Linked DNA regions of Homo sapiens: region 1 is linked to region 2. Evidence: fine-mapped expression QTL. A gene starts in region 2. The other region holds a variant in brackets. All regions are shown on one strand. Distances are from middle to middle.

The links. PIP is the estimated chance that this variant, and not a neighbour inherited with it, causes the effect.
Region 1: its variant is the best candidate, but not a certain one, in a credible set for the expression of HPRT1 in blood mononuclear cells (TOPMed, PIP 0.69).

Annotation. Positions count from the first base shown.
Region 1 is chrX:134,529,002-134,531,805 of GRCh38, forward strand. No RefSeq gene overlaps it. Among named protein-coding and RNA genes, the nearest start is that of MIR450B, 9.9 kb to the right of the region's middle. RefSeq lists a silencer at 123-222. The variant C/T (reference allele first, on the strand shown) is at 1,481.
Region 2 is chrX:134,459,009-134,461,812 of GRCh38, forward strand. HPRT1 (hypoxanthine phosphoribosyltransferase 1) reads left to right here and starts at 1,157. Exons shown (of 9, transcript NM_000194.3): 1 at 1,157-1,330. The coding sequence starts at 1,304. RefSeq lists silencers at 1,029-1,148, 1,249-1,428.

The DNA.
Region 1 (2,804 bases), 70 kb after region 2:
GTCCACTGAAGAACAGGAAGCCAGAGCCTTTAAACCAAAGCCCCCACCCCCATCATGGAGGCTTCTCCCTGGGATGAAGGGAGAATGGTTTAGTCTGCTGTTAAAAGTCAGCCAGTTAAGAGAAGGCCTTGAAACTGAAAGCAGAAAGAGACTTAATGCTCCCTCAAGGGCAAACGCTGTGCTGCCTGCATGAGGTCAGGCTGATCTTGTAGAAGACAGTGCACTTCAGCAGCTGAAATCGGTGGGGCTCAAGGGGAAGGGACAAGAGGTACTAGAGACATCTGCTACGGAGAGTAAAAGCCAGCCTACTCCTCAGGGCAATAAGGTGGTTTCCAGGGAGCTCAATGGGGAAGGGCAGCAGGGGTGGGGATGGTGGGGTTGTCATGCGTTTAGACTTTTACTAATTGTCCCGGTTTTCATTTGACACGTCATTCCCATCCTCAGCTGTGTTAACTGTGACTAGGATCGGGTGTTCTAGAATTCATACTAGTCCCACCCACTCTGCATATTGATGGCCTTCTCAGCCCACTTGGGCCAAGATTTGGCCATGCCAGGCTGCCCTCCACATGTACGCCCGCCCTCTGAACCCTGCTTGGGCTCTGAAACAATGCTCCAGGCCACCCCATGGCATGGATACCCTATATGCCCCACCCACACTCTGACACTCTATGCCAGGCTGCCCCCGACCACATGGGTGAGCTACTGACACCTCAGGATCTGACATCAAACACTAGCCCACCCTCCTTCCCCGGTTTGAGCTCTGACACCCCAGGCCAGGCTACCCATTGGCAGTAGTGTCCTCAGCTGGCTTGGCCTTTGACAGCCACACTGGGCCCCACCCCTGACATGGCTGGCCTCACCTCGCTCACCATGCCGACCCCCAGTGGGTGCCTTTCCCCCACACACACACCCTTTTTTTTGAGACGGAGTTTCACTCTTGTCACCCAGGCTGGAGTGCAGTGGCGCAATCTTGGCTCACTGCAACCTCCACCTCTCAGATTCAAGCGATTCTCCTGCCTTAGCCTCCAGAGTAGCTGGGATTACAGGCGTGCACCACAACGCCCAGCTAATTTTTGTATTTTTAGTAGAGACGGGGTTTTGCTATGTTGGCCAGGCTGGTCTCAAACTCCTGACCTCATCAGGTGATCCACCTGCCTCGGAGTGCTGGGATTACAGGCATGAGCCATTGCTCCCGGCCGCCTTCTCCTTTTATCTCAGGTTTGGAAACCTGCAGGAGGCCACCCCACACCCCTGGCAAACACCCTCCTTACTCCACTTGGGCTCTGGCTTTGCATGCCGAGCGGCCCCTGTGTAGATGCCCTCATGACCCGGCTCATGTCTGACACCGTCTTGCCAGGCTGCCTCTTCAGGGAGATGCTGACTCCCTAGCTCCGCCTCTGACTCTCCAGGACAAGCTGGTCCCCACGTGGACATCCTACTGGCTGCACTTGGACTCTGAGTCCCTCTGCCTGGCTGCCTC[C/T]GGCATGGATGTCTTCCTCACTCTGCTTGGGTTCTAGACCTCACATCAGGCTGCCCCTCCACACGGATGCCCTCTCCTCCCTGCTCAGACTCAGATAGTCCCCAGTAGACCATCCTGTGTGGATGCCCTATACACCCTGCTTGCAGACACCATTCTTGACCTTCTAGGGTCCTGTTTTTTTGAGATAGGATCTCGCTCTGTCGCCCAGGCTGGAGTGGAGTGGTGCCATCAAGGCTCACTGCAACGACCTCCCTGGCTCAAACGATCCTCCTACCTCAGCCTCCCAAGTAGCTGGGACCACAGGTGCAAGCCACCATGCCCAGCTTATTTATTTATTTTTGTTTAATTTATTTATATTTGTTTGCAGAGATGAGGTCTCATTATGTTGCCCAGGCTGACCTTCTAGGTTCTAACACCTGTGCCAGGCTAGCCCCATGCGTGGACGCCCTCCTCAGGCTCTGTATGCCACACTGGGTGGCCCCTCCACACGGATGATCTCTTCACCCTTCCTGGGCTCTTACTCCCTGCTCCAGGTCATCCCCCTGTAAGGCCATCATCTTCAACCCACTCAAGCACAGACTCCCGTGATGAGCAGACTCTCCCGACCCCCATGCACTTCGACTCCCTCCTCTTGGTTTTGTTTTGTTTGTTTGTTTGTTTTTTAGATGGAGTCTCACTCTGTTGCCCAGGCAGGAGTGCAGTGGCACGATCTCAGCTCACTGCAACCTCTGCCTCCCAGGTTCAAGCAATTCCCTTGCCTCAGCCTCCTGAGTAGCTGGGATTACAGGCGCCTGCCACCATACTCAGCTAATTTTTTTTATTTTTAGTAGAGATGGGGTTTCCCCATGTTGCCCAGGCTGGTCTTGAACGCCTGACCTAAGCAATCTGCCACCTTGGCCTCTCAAAGTGCTGGGATTACAGGCGTGAGCCACTGTGTCCAGCCATTTATTATTTTTATATAAGTATTTTAAAAATATTTAATATTTTAATTTAAATATTTAATTTCTTAAATTAATTATTTAAATTAATTGACCCTTCCAACATATATTTATTTTTCCCCATTTCTTCTTACTGTGGTTATATTTATATGGCATACAATTGACCATTTTAACCATTTTTAAGTATACAGTTCCCTGACATTAAGCACATTAACATTGTTGTGCAACCAGCACCACCATCCATCTCCAGAACCTTCCCATCATCCCAAATTAAAATTCTATACATATTAAACACTAACTCTATTCTCCCTCCTACCCCAGCCCCTGGCAAGAACCACTCTACTTTCTGTCTCTATGAGTTGTGCTACTCATATGGGGACATAACT
Region 2 (2,804 bases):
GCCACCAACTATGTGCTGGGCACTGTGGTGGATGCTGGAGCTATAGGGTTGAGTATATAAGAAATGGTGTTGCTGGAGCAACTGTTGCTTGCTTACCTGACCTATCTGAGAATTAATTAGCAGGGGAACATATTTTTGTTTTCAGATTCAATATAAGAACTTGTGTGGGCAAAAATAAAGATCAGTAGTAATAACAGTAGTTCCCATTTGCTGACTGTACTGTCCTAAGTGCATATATATATACATACACACACGCATACCTATACTCCTCTAATACTCAAAATGATCCTGTTTATGTATTGTTAATATGCTCATTTTATTTTTAAATTTTTATTTATTTTTATTTTTATTTATTTTTGAGACGGAGTCTCATTCTGTCGCGGAGGCTGAAGTGCAGTGGTGCGATCTCAGCTCAGTGCGACCTCCGCCTCCCGGGTTCAAGTGATTCTCCTGCCTCAGCCTCCGGACTAGCTGGGATTACAGGCGCCCGCCTCCACGCCCAGCTAATTTTTGTATTTTTAGTAGAGATGGGGTTTCGCCATGTTGGCCAGGCTGGTCTCGTACTCCTGACCTTGAGTGATCCACCTGCCTCGGCCTCCCAAAGTGCTGGGATTACAGGCATGAGCCACCGCGCCGGGCTAATATGCTCATTTTAGTGAGGCAAAAATAGAGGCTCAGAGTCTGATTTGTACAAAACTACAGAGCAGTTAAGTGTCCTCTCAGATGTGTACCCTGATCTGGGTGACTCTAGGACTCTAGGTCTCAACTGTTACAACCAGTTAAGGGTTTGGGGAAGCACTGGGCCAAGAGTCAGGAAAATGGAAGCCACAGGTAGTGCAAGGTCTTGGGAATGGGACGTCTGGTCCAAGGATTCACGCGATGACTGGAACCCGAAGAGCCGGGGCCCGGTTTACGGCCGCCATGAAGCAACGCGCGCCGGTAGGTTTGGGAATCAGGGAGCCCTCTGAATAGGAGACTGAGTTGGGAGGGAAAGGGGCTTCGCTGGGGGAGCCTCGGCTTCTTCTGGGAGAAAATTCCCACGGCTACCTAGTGAGCCTGCAAACTGGTAGGCGCCGGCGTAGGCGCGCGGGCGGGGCCGGGGGCGGGGCCTGCGGGGCGTGGCGGGGCGGGCAGAGGGCGGGGCCTGCTTCTCCTCAGCTTCAGGCGGCTGCGACGAGCCCTCAGGCGAACCTCTCGGCTTTCCCGCGCGGCGCCGCCTCTTGCTGCGCCTCCGCCTCCTCCTCTGCTCCGCCACCGGCTTCCTCCTCCTGAGCAGTCAGCCCGCGCGCCGGCCGGCTCCGTTATGGCGACCCGCAGCCCTGGCGTCGTGGTGAGCAGCTCGGCCTGCCGGCCCTGGCCGGTTCAGGCCCACGCGGCAGGTGGCGGCCGGGCCCTGAGGCGCGGGATCCGCAGTGCGGGCTCGGGCGGCCGGGCCCAGGGAACCCCGCAGGCGGGGGCGGCCAGTTTCCCGGGTTCGGCTTTACGTCACGCGAGGGCGGCAGGGAGGACGGAATGGCGGGGTTTGGGGTGGGTCCCTCCTCGGGGGAGCCCTGGGAAAAGAGGACTGCGTGTGGGAAGAGAAGGTGGAAATGGCGTTTTGGTTGACATGTGCCGCCTGCGAGCGTGCTGCGGGGAGGGGCCGAGGGCAGATTCGGGAATGATGGCGCGGGGTGGGGGCGTGGGGGCTTTCTCGGGAGAGGCCCTTCCCTGGAAGTTTGGGGTGCGATGGTGAGGTTCTCGGGGCACCTCTGGAGGGGCCTCGGCACGGAAAGCGACCACCTGGGAGGGCGTGTGGGGACCAGGTTTTGCCTTTAGTTTTGCACACACTGTAGTTCATCTTTATGGAGATGCTCATGGCCTCATTGAAGCCCCACTACAGCTCTGGTAGCGGTAACCATGCGTATTTGACACACGAAGGAACTAGGGAAAAGGCATTAGGTCATTTCAAGCCGAAATTCACATGTGCTAGAATCCAGATTCCATGCTGACCGATGCCCCAGGATATAGAAAATGAGAATCTGGTCCTTACCTTCAAGAACATTCTTAACCGTAATCAGCCTCTGGTATCTTAGCTCCACCCTCACTGGTTTTTTCTTGTTTGTTGAACCGGCCAAGCTGCTGGCCTCCCTCCTCAACCGTTCTGATCATGCTTGCTAAAATAGTCAAAACCCCGGCCAGTTAAATATGCTTTAGCCTGCTTTATTATGATTATTTTTGTTGTTTTGGCAATGACCTGGTTACCTGTTGTTTCTCCCACTAAAACTTTTTAAGGGCAGGAATCACCGCCGTAACTCTAGCACTTAGCACAGTACTTGGCTTGTAAGAGGTCCTCGATGATGGTTTGTTGAATGAATACATTAAATAATTAACCACTTGAACCCTAAGAAAGAAGCGATTCTATTTCATATTAGGCATTGTAATGACTTAAGGTAAAGAGCAGTGCTATTAACGGAGTCTAACTGGGAATCCAGCTTGTTTGGGCTATTTACTAGTTGTGTGGCTGTGGGCAACTTACTTCACCTCTCTGGGCTTAAGTCATTTTATGTATATCTGAGGTGCTGGCTACCTCTTGGAGTTATTGAGAGGATTATAAGACAGTCTATGTGAATCAGCAACCCTTGCATGGCCCCTGGCGGGGAACAGTAATAATAGCCATCATCATGTTTACTTACATAGTCCTAATTAGTCTTCAAAACAGCCCTGTAGCAATGGTATGATTATTACCATTTTACAGATGAGGAACCTTTGAAGCCTCAGAGAGGCTAACAGACATACCCTAGGTCATACAGTTATTAAGAGAAGGA